Homo sapiens: one gene and its partners. The protein of the gene in region 1 interacts with the protein of each later gene in a pairwise test. Each region holds a gene or a part of one and is shown on either strand. Other genes may lie near its edges.

The links.
Region 2: the proteins of HSD17B14 (region 1) and OTUD3 interact in binary tests that used the Homo sapiens proteins (3 or more experiments, as listed by UniProt).
Region 3: the proteins of HSD17B14 (region 1) and MIA3 interact in a two-hybrid assay, tested with the Homo sapiens proteins (one large-scale study listed by BioGRID and IntAct).

Annotation. Positions count from the first base shown.
Region 1 is NC_000019.10:48,829,883-48,833,534, reverse strand, and holds part of HSD17B14 (L-fucose dehydrogenase), read left to right. Parts: intron 1-802; coding exon 803-869; intron 870-1,775; coding exon 1,776-1,867; intron 1,868-3,652. UniProt on the Homo sapiens protein: Catalyzes the NAD(+)-dependent oxidation of L-fucose, yielding L-fucono-1,5-lactone, which rapidly converts spontaneously to L-fucone-1,4-lactone. Can also act on D-arabinose and L-galactose, with lower catalytic efficiency. Does not use NADPH.
Region 2 is NC_000001.11:19,888,895-19,892,546, reverse strand, and holds part of OTUD3 (OTU domain-containing protein 3), read right to left. Parts: exon of another isoform or gene 2,388-3,652; coding exon of another isoform or gene 2,350-2,387; intron 2,344-2,349; exon of another isoform or gene 2,163-2,343; coding exon 2,014-2,162; intron 1-2,013.
Region 3 is NC_000001.11:222,649,073-222,652,724, reverse strand, and holds part of MIA3 (transport and Golgi organization protein 1 homolog isoform 1 precursor), read right to left. Parts: intron 2,434-3,652; coding exon 2,345-2,433; intron 2,092-2,344; coding exon 2,014-2,091; intron 1,933-2,013; coding exon 1,822-1,932; intron 749-1,821; coding exon 677-748; intron 498-676; coding exon 393-497; intron 1-392.

The DNA of each region.
Region 1 (3,652 bases):
GTTTTAGTAGAGACAGGGTTTCACCATGTTGGCCAGGCTGGTCTCGAACTCCTGACCTCAGGTGATCCGCCCACCTCAGCCTCCCAAAGTGTTGGGATTACAGGTGTGAGCCACTGCACGTGGCCTGTATGTAACTGATTTTTTCTCCATTATTTCTGGGTTCCTATTTCTTCCTTTTAATCAGTATCTCTCTGTTATCTGCCCCCCTTGGGCAACTGTCCCCTACGCGCTCTCTGAATCCTTGTCACCCCCCTGCCCCACCCCCTGACCCTGGGTGTGACGACTGCAGTGTGGCTCTGACCAGCCCCCTGTCTCCTTCCTGTCTCCTGCTTGCCTGCTGTGTCTGCTGATCTCGGAGTCCCCTCTTCCTCTAGCTCTTGTCCCCTGACCTGGGAGTTCAGCTTCCCCCTCCTGCCTTGCATTTGGGAGCCCTGTCTTCTTTATGGCTGGACACCCCATCTACTGCTCATTCAAAGGACATTTCCTGGGCTGGGCGTGGTACCTGTAATTCCAGCACTTTGGGAGGCTGAGGCGGGTGGATCACTTGAGCTCAGGAGTTTGAGACCAGCCTGGCTAACCTAGTGAATCCCTGTCTCTACTAAAAAGTACAAAAATTAGCCGGGCGTGGTGGCAGTCGCCTGTAATCCCAGCTACTTGGGAGGCTGAGGTAGGAGAGTTGCTTGAACGCAGGAGGCTGAAGTTGCAGTGAGCCAAGATCGTGCCAATGCACTCCAGCCTGAGTGACAAGAGGGAGACACCGTCTCCAAAAAAAAAAAACAAAGGACATTTCCTTTCTCCTCAGACCCTGGTTTCTGAGACCATCCGCCGATTTGGCCGCCTGGATTGTGTTGTCAACAACGCTGGCCACCGTGAGTTGTGAGACCCCAGGGCCATTCTCCACCTCCTGCCCCCCAACTCTGTTTCCTGCACGTCAGTTTCCCCACTCCCTGCCCCTGATTCCCTCATCCTGCCTCATACCTCTTTCTAGCCACTTGGACAGGAGAGTAAAGCAATGGAAGCCCCCCAGGCCTGTGCTGAAACTGTGGCCCTGTTCCATCCCTCCTGTGTGTCCCCAGGGCTGTGCCCTCACTTGGCCATGTCTCTCTTCTTTTCTTTTCTTTTTTCTTCTCTTCTCTTCTTTCTTTTCTTTTTTTTTCAGATGGAGTCGCACTCTGTCGTCCAGGCTGGAGTGCAGTGGTGTGATCTCAGCTCACTGCAACCTCTGCCTCTTGGGTTCAAGCGATTCTCCTGCCTCAGCCTCCCAAGTAGCTGGGATTACAGGCGCCCACCAGCACGCCAGGCTAATTTTTATATTTTTAGTAGAGATGGGGTTCATCATGTTAGCCAGGCTGGTCTTGAACTCCTGACCTCAGATGATCTGCCCACCTCGGCCTCCCCAAATGCTGGGATTACAGGCATGAGCCACTGCACCCGGCTTTTTTTTTTTTTTTTTTTCTGAGATGGGGTCTCACTCTGTCGCCCAGGCTGGAGTGCAGTGGCTCGATCTAGGCTCACTGCAACCTGCACCTCCCAGGTTCAAGCAATTCTCCTGCCTCAGCCTCCTGAGTAGCTGGGAATATAGGCACCCGCCACCACACCCAGCTAATTTTTGTATTTTTCGTAGAGACAGGGTTTTGCCCTGTCAGCCAGGTTGGTCTTGAACTCCTGACCTCATGATCCGCCTGCCTCAGCCTCCCAAAGTGCTGGGATTACAGGCGTGGGCAACTGTGTCCAGCCCCCGTCACTTTTCCTCTCTCTCTCACCCCCCACTTTAGACCCACCCCCACAGAGGCCTGAGGAGACCTCTGCCCAGGGATTCCGCCAGCTGCTGGAGCTGAACCTACTGGGGACGTACACCTTGACCAAGGTGAGGGCTGGCGACCCTGCCGCCAGGCCCGAGCAGCCTCCTGATAGGTGGATTGTGTGATGCATTTTGTCTAAGAGCAAAATGTTTTCCGTTCTTTTTATTTGTTTGTTTGTTGGAGACAGGGTCTCTCTCTGTCGCCCAGGCTGGAGGACAGTGGTGTGATCTCAGCTCACTGCAACCTCCACCTCCTGGGTTCAAGCGATTCTCGTGCCTCAGCCTCCTGAGTAACTGGGATTACAGGTGCGGGCCACAAAACCAGCTAAATTTCATAATTTTTGGTAGCTATGCTTCTGACTGCAAGTGATCTGCCTGCCTTGGCCTTCCAAAGTGCTGGGATTACAGACTTGAGTCACCACGCCTGGCCATCTATTTTCTGTTATTTAGTTTAATCTCCTTATTCCAAAAGGAAGATAAATGACTGCGAATCTCTACATCCAGCAAATCTACCTTTGTAGCTACATAGCCCAGTCTTAGGAACCTTCTAGAACCTTCCAGACTGGTGGTGGTAGGAGGGGATGTTAAGAACATATTGGGGCCAGACACAGTGGCTCACACCTTTAATCCCAGTGCTTTGGGAGGTCCTTGTGGGAGGTTCACTTGAGGTCAGGAGTTCAAGACAGCTGGGGCAATACAGCGAAACCCCCCATCTCTACAAAAAGTTTAAAAAATTAGGCGTAGTGGTGCCCTTGTAGTCCCAGCTACTCAGGTGGCTGAGGTGGGAGGATCGTTTGAGCCCAGGAAGTCAAGGCTGCCATGAGCTATGTACACACCACTGCATACAGCCTGGGCAACATTGCAAGATGCTGTCTCAAAAATAAATAAATAAATAAATAAATAAATAAATAGGCCAGGTCCAGTAGCTCACAGCTGTAATCCCAGCACTTTGGGAGGCCGAGGCAAGAGGATCCCTTAAGCCCAGGAATTCGAGACTAGCCTGGGCAACATAGTGAAACCCTCGTCTCTACAAAAAATACGGAAATTACCTGAGCATGGTGGTGCGCCTCAGGTACTTGGGAGGCTGAGGCGGGAGGATTGCTTTGTTGTAACCGAGCGAGTTATAGAGAAACGCCACACTCTGAGACAAGATCAGGAGTCCTTTATTAGCCGGCAGCCCAGAGACGGCTAGCGCTCAAAATTCTCTCGGCCCCGAAGAAGGGGCTAGATTTTCTTTTATACTTTGGTTTAGAAAGGGGAGGGGGGAGTCTAGTTAAAACAATCTTACAGAAGTAAAGCAGGCAAAAAAAGTTAGAAAGATAAATGGTTACAGGAAAGCAGACAGTTCCAGGTGCAGGGGCTTTAAACACATCCCAAGGTGATAGACGCTGGACGTTGGGCGCTATCAACCAGACAGAAACGCGGGGGCTTAGGGTACTATTAATCGGGCGACTGCCTGGGAACTGCGGATATAACTTGCCACAGTATCTTATCAGTAATTGCATTCTTTGATGTGCTGGGAGTCAGCTTGCACAAGTTAAGTCCTTGAAGAAAGGGGGGTTGGGTTAAGGGGCTGCAAGTGAAGGAGCCAGGATGGAGTCTGTCTGGCTCGCTCACCTAAGGGAGAGTCAATTCAGGTTAAAACAAGGTTAGGGTATCACAGCTTGAGCCCAGGAGGCGGAGGTTGCAGTGAGCTGAGATCGTGCAACTGCACTCCAGCCTAGGTGACAGAGTGAGACCTTGTCTCAAAAAAAAAATAATTCATTAATTAATTTTTAAAAAGAGCATGGAGTCCAGGCATGGTGGCTTACGCCTGTAATCCCAGCACTTTGGGAGGCCGAGGCAGGCGGA
Region 2 (3,652 bases), on another chromosome or scaffold:
CACAGTCTAAAAGAAAAGAATAATCCTAAAGATACAGCCAGATGCAAGGGTGACCAGGTCCTTAATAGTATAGTGAACCATTCATTTATTCACTTTATGAATGTCTACCAGATGCCGGGCACTGCCACACCGCAAAACAAAGACACACAGTCCCTGCCCTTGAGAATCTCACAGTACAACAAGGTAGGCAGCACACTGACATTAAAAACAGGTAACTATGACTCAAGACTCACCAATGTAACAAGCCAAGCCTTCAACTGACACACAAAGAGAATGTGCAGACTTCCAGGTTTCTTTTCATTTCTGCTCTGGCCGTCAAAGTGACTTCTTACTTCTGTGATGCTCAAATTCTTAAGCAGCTCCAAGCAACAGGCATGCATAGTGACATTTCAAGAAAACACCTTTCCACTGTTCATCTCAAGTGACTATCACATTGGCAACCGAAGATTTGAGTTCCCTATCCTGTAACACCCCAAAATCCACCATGTGATCTTCACTGACAGTGTTCAAAGTGGAGTTTCACATCACAAACTAAAAACCCGTTTCATCCAAAATGATGTTTTCATTGGATTAATGACACAATTCATTTCGTACAGCACTAAACTACAAAATTTGTCCCATATACAAACATTTAATTTGTAAACTGCTGACTATCCAGTAAACTATGCATATCTGCTAGCCAAAAAGTAATCCCAGGAAGAGGGACCATCTGAACTCAGTGATTGGTACAAACCACCCATTGGAAGTTTTGTTGCTCTGTGTCTGGTGCCTACTGAGTAAGTTCTTTCCTAGTAAGGAATGGGAAACACTTTGGGATCACTGATACCTTTTCTCCCAAATGTCCCCCTCCTGCTGCCCTCTCTCTTGCTAACGGTACAGCCAATTACCCATTCCCTAAGCAGAAACTTCAGAATCACTCTTGTCTCCTCCCTCTCCCCTCCTCACCTCCAATGTGTCCTGTCAATTATACTGCCAAAGTGTGGCTTGGTTTGGGCCTTACTCATTATCCTCAGTAGCTACCTTGATGGAGACCTCCTCTACTCTCATCTGGCCAGTGTGGAGACCTTCTAACTAGTCTCCTTTATCAGTCTCTCTCCCCATCCATTCTTGGCATGGCCTCCAGACTTAGCTCTCTAAAACAAAGGATCAATTCTCTTTCCTGATAACAGACAGAAAAGACTATAAGCCCTGTGATGAAAATGCCATTTGTAAGACATATCAGCAGCAAGCACAGTAGATCCTCAGTAAATATTTGTTGAAATTAAAGTTTACAAGTTCATATGCATTTTCTATAAGATCTATGCCTATTAAATAGGAACCAATTAAAATCACTAACTGACTTGCCTCAAAGAAAACAGATTGTGTTTGGGGTTTGGGTGAGAAATTAACATGATTTTATTGGTTTTTCTAATTTTAAAAGTAATACATGATCATCTAAAAGTCAGAAAAAGTCTATAAAAGATAATTTAAAATACCATAGTCCCATCATCCCCAGATGGCTAACGCTTACTAAGGGCTTATTTTAATTTTGTTATCTAATTTAATCTTCACCAAAAACCCTGTGAGATAGATGCTATTATTATCTCCCTTCTATAGAAGTTTAAAGAGAATGAGTAATTTCTGAAAAATAAGTGAAGCTAAGAATTAACAAACAAAATGTTAGTATCTTTCCAGACTTTTCCTACTGTGTCTGTATACCTTTTAAAAATAGGATCAACCTATACAAGCTATGTTATAGCCTGCTTTTCCCACCCCACAGAGTAAGAAGTCATGAATCGCTTTTCAGGTCAATTAATACCATCATGTTTATTAAGGGCATATACAGCTAAACCTACTGATCCCCAACTACCTAGCATACTGCCGATAACCAAGTAGGCAAACAAATATTTCTTGAATAAATGAATGTCGTGATTTATATAACCAAACCCTTGGCTGGGAGGGGGGAGGATGCCAGTGGACTTAATTACCCAATGCATTACTCCTGAAGGACACAATGTCCCACAGTGAACCTACCATGCTTCTCAAAAGGAATGTCATCTTCTACAAAGGGTTCAAAATCTTCCCGCTGCTTTATCATGTAGTCCACTGTCTCCTGTCTGTGCTTGAGATGATTTCGTGAGTGTCCCTCCAATTGATCACCAAGAGCTCTGAACAAGCAATTGCTGTCAAAACAACAACACGAGTCAAGACCTTTCAAAAATGAACTTAGTTCGTCTAAAACAATGATGCTTCATGCCAGATCATCCATGGAAATATTTTGTGCACACAGAGGTAAAGACTCAACTCTAATAGTCCAGGATTCTTCCAAGACCACGGGGGACAGCATGAGGGCATATTCAACCATATTACCTTCTTGAGAGGCAGCAAACAAGGATTCTATTCCCCATGTACCAGCTGGCTGACTCAGGAGAGTCATCAAACTTCCCTGGGCCTCAGCTGCTTCAACAAGTGGAGCCGGTGATACACTAACCACCTTACTACAAGGTCCAGACCTTATAGGCCATTCCATGCCTAAGGGCTATGATTTACAGATCCTCTTCCAAAATCATGTCCTATCTACAGCCTCTTTTCTAAAACAAGTTCCACTACAGCTACCCAGCTAAGTAATCATTCATTTAACAAATAGTACCCAAAAAATAGCAATTTGTCAAGCTGCCAATACTAACAACTGAACAATACTCTGTTTGAGTCCTAAGAACATAGTGGAGAAAGTCATGAGAAGGAAAGCACTTGGACAACAAACAGTTGTACTATGGAAAGACACTTCCTCCTTGCCTCCTCACTTAGCACCCAGGGAGCAACAATGCCATTGTTATTCCTGCCAAATGAAAACTTTAAACACCACATTTTGTTTCTCTAAAATTAAAATACTGGTAATAAACTGTAAGAGTTATCTTTACTTTCAAACCCCTCAAAGGCTTCTAAATTCCGAACTATCACAAACACAGAGGCTTAGATACACAGAGACTCAAACAAGACAAACACAATCTGGTATCCTTAAAACTACAGAAATAAACAATTCTGAAGCCAAACAGTTGTCCAGTTTTACACCCAACTGTTTACTCTTCCAAATGAAAAACTATGATACTGTAATTCCAAAGTATAAACTCATCACTTTCAGAAAGATTTCATGTCTAAATGTGTAGGAAAAAAGGGGGTTTTGTTTTTCAACTCAGAAAAGTGAATTTTCAACAGAAAGCTATAGAAAGGCTGGAATCTCTTCTAATGTATAAGAATATATACTTTTTTTTTTTTTGCAGGGGAGGGGAGAATTAAGACAGCTTCTATAAATTAAAAACCAAGAAGCTTTCCAACAATCTAAGACAAGATTCTAGAAGGAGTGGAATATAGAGTTCTGTAGGCTAGACTGAGGTGTCTTGCTAAAATCTGACAATGGCAGTCTTTTTTCAACCATGGAGAAAAGTAAGTTAATCGATAAAACAATTTAAATGTCAAGCTTTTCCCTCAAACTTTTCTTAATCAGCATCTGCCACCACTAGCCTATTCTTGAATTTAGTTTAAGAGATGTGATTTATCACAAATTTATGTAGTTATTTTACATTTAATGTACCAAAATTCATGGTATTCTACAGTTACATGTTTGCTAGGAACTTTTAATAACATGAGCAAATGTTCTCCAAAAAAGTAGGTG
Region 3 (3,652 bases), on another chromosome or scaffold:
TATCTCCCAAGTCCACACTCCTGATCATGTAACCTTCCCTTGGCTAGTGAAGCAGTAACTACTCAAAGGAGGGTTATAAAATATCTAACTCTTGGGTCTAAAAAGCCAATCTACTACCCACTCGAGGCTACTCAAGTTAATAGCAATTGGTGTCTGACAAAACAAGACTACACACTCTGATAGCCAAAATAAATTGTACAGAACAGAAAATCCAGAACAGATAGAGAATGTATACCTACACTCAATTTTGGAAGCATAGTTTAAACTTTGCATATCTAAGAACAGAATCCTGCACATATATTACCCTAAAAATAGATCTGAGTAAAGGCATTCATGAGGTATGATACTGAGTTCTCTATTTTACATGACCTGGGACACGCACTTTCCTTTACCTGCTCTTTTTTCTTCTTAAGCCTAGCATTTTCTTCTTGAACCCGATGGCATTCAGACTTCACCTTCTCTTCACTAAGCTTAGCTTCATTAAGTGCAATCTGAACCTAATGCAAAACACTCCTATTAGTGAATTAATTCCAAAGAAAACCAGAAAAAGTTACTTTTCCAACCCAACATCATGTAGTTTTCATTTTTTGCACATTTTAGCATATATCAAATTTTTGCTCTGCAATCAAACTATGATATAGTATTAATATCCTGCAGGAATTACAGTCAGCTTTACCTCTGAAAATTCTGAGGCATTCATTGAAATAACATCCTTTAACTTCTCTATAGATTTCTTGTTTTCTGATATCTGCCATGTAAAAACAGAACACAAAATGCATATTAGGATTTTAGTAGAAACACTGGGATACATACTAAGAAGAAGAAACATCAACAAAGTATGTCCCAGAGCCATCCCCTATGTTTCAGGTAAAAGCAGGTGTTTCAGTTTTGCCCTCGGGAAAAATCAAGAACTTAAAGAGGTAAGGGAAAATAATCAAAGGCATAAATATTTCACAGCATACACAACCTTCCTGGTTAGAATAAAATGTGGTAGATGACCAGACTAAAAGGTGAAAGAAAAGAAACTGAAAAAACTTTTAAGTAAACCAGTTCAAATCAATGTGACTTTTTTTTTTCTTGTGGCAAGAGAAAAAAATAATCCCCAAGGTACTTTAATTTAGTACAATTTGACAATTGTTTTGTCAAACACCAATTGCTCTTGCCTAAATTAAAAATGGTAGGATTGGAGTGAGAATAGACAGATCACCCATATAGAATTCTAGATAATTTATGAAGATTCTGGCTCCTCAAGAGGATGGAGCATAACCCTTCACTTTTTAACTGTGGGCTGCGATAGTAACTTCCTTCCAAAGAGTACAATAATGCAAAAAGTTTAAAAAAAAAAAAAGTAATTTTACAGTGAAGAAACCTGGCAATACTACCTCAACGAGGTCATCAAGATTAATAGGGTGTGGGATTTATGGAACCCTCTCTACTATCTTTGCAACTTTTAGGTCATTCTAAAACTATTCTATTAATAAAATAAAATGTTTATAGCAAAAAAAAAAAAAAACTTTGCAAAACAAAACAAAACACAAGGACTGTTCAACTGGGTTTCTTAGTTGTTCCACATGTTTCGGAGGGCAGAGCCAAGCAATATGACAATTACCTAGGGTTGAGAACCAAAATACTTCCTAGGCCTGTAAGAATAATTTCTTGTGTAAGTACTTAAAATTCCACAAAAATGGACAGAAGTAGGTTCAACTTCCCTGACTCGCACTCTTACTTCACATAACAGCATGGAAAATAAAGAGTTCAACTCAATCTACAAAAGAGTTCAAAACCCAAATTATTAGTAATACTTAGCAGCAAAACTCTTACCAAGTCCTGATTCTTGACATTCTGTTCTCTCTCAGATTCTAGCATAACACGAAGATTTTTAGCTGTGTCATCCAGAATTTCCTGATTTTTTTCAAGTGTCTTGATTTTATCCTACAAAAAAGATATTAAGGTTAGTTATACTCATTACTTTTACTTTTGTTTTAAAATGTAATCCCCAAAAGAAGTTTTTACCTTATATTTAATTGCTTCATCAGAGAGAATCATATTTTGTTTCCTGGTTTCCTGAACATGTTTCTTTGATTCCTTGATCTATATAAAATAAAGCATTCAGAATCCAGAAATATAAAGTATAGTGCTACCAGAACTTATTTTCAAGTGACTGACCTCTTACAGAAGAAAACAGTACTTTACACATATGACTGCTTAAGATCTGGATGGTTTATAGGAATTAATGTAATAATAAATACTATTTAAAAATACCATAGTAACTGAACTATAAGATAGGTGACAAATAATTCAAGCTGGGACCATGAAAAAAAAAAAAAACAAAGAATAATCATACCTTCTGTTCATAATTTGACAATTTTTGTACAAGTTCTGTATTTTCTTTCATGATAGTCTTCAACTTCTCAGAAATTTGCTGTTCCGTGACTGAAAAAAGAAAAAAATAATAAGGTTATTATGATCACTAAATGAAATTGAATTACCCAATGTATCAGCAGCAAAGACATGTTATCTTGCACTATGACAAAAAATAACTTCTCAGCATAACTATTATGGTTTTAAAAAGTGATATGGTTTGGTTCTGTGTCTCCATCAAATCTCATAACAAATTATAGTACCCAGTGTTCAGGTGGGGCCTGGTGGAAGGTGATTGGATCATAAGGGTAGATTTCTCATGAGTGGTTTATCACCATCCCTGTGGTGCTATTCTGTGATGGTGACTGAGTTCTTGTGGAATCTGGTTTTAAAAGTGTGCAGCACCTCCCCGCTCACTCTCTCTTGCTCCTGCTCCCACCATGTAAGATGGCCTGCTCTCGCTTTGCCTTCTGCTGTGAGTAAAAGCTCCCTGAGGCCTCCTCAGAAGCAGATGCCGCTATACTTCCTATAGCCTGCAGAAACATGAGCTAATTAAACTTCTTATAAATTACCCAGTATCAGGTATTTCTTTTTTTGAGACAGGGTCTTGCTCTGTTGTCCAGGCTGGAGTTTAGTGGTGCAATCTCAGCTCACTGCAAAGTCCGCCTCCCAAGCTCAAGCAATCCTCCTGCCTCAGCCTCCTGAGTAGCTGGGACTACAGGTGTGTGCCACCACACCCAGCTAACTTTTATATTTTTTTTATAGAGATGGGGTTTCTCCATGTTGCCCAGGCTGGTCTCGAACTCCTGAGCTCAAGCAATCCTCCGCTTTGGCCTCCCAAAGTGTTGGGATTACAGGCATGAGCCACCACACCAGGCCTTGGGTATTTCTTTATAGCAGTGTGAGAACAGATTAATACAAAAAGCAATCTGCTAACAAGAATAAGGATGTAAAAATACGGTTAGAATTTAAGAAAAATATAATAAGAACCTTTATTTCAATGAGAGTTTAATTTATTTCCAAGATGGGAAATACAGTAAAATGTTATAGCTCAATATTCCTCCCTGCATGAAGCATCTTTCTTCTCAGAAAATGGCATCACTTCAAATATGTCATTTGCAAAGAGAAACAGAAAATGCAGGCGTGCTGATTTATATTTCTAGTTCTCAAATTATCTACTTAAATAAATATTTAATGTACTGACTAAATCATTAGCACAGGGACACTGGTCACATGTAATAAATTGGTACTACATCAACATTTAAGGTCAATCTGCCCCAAATTAATGATC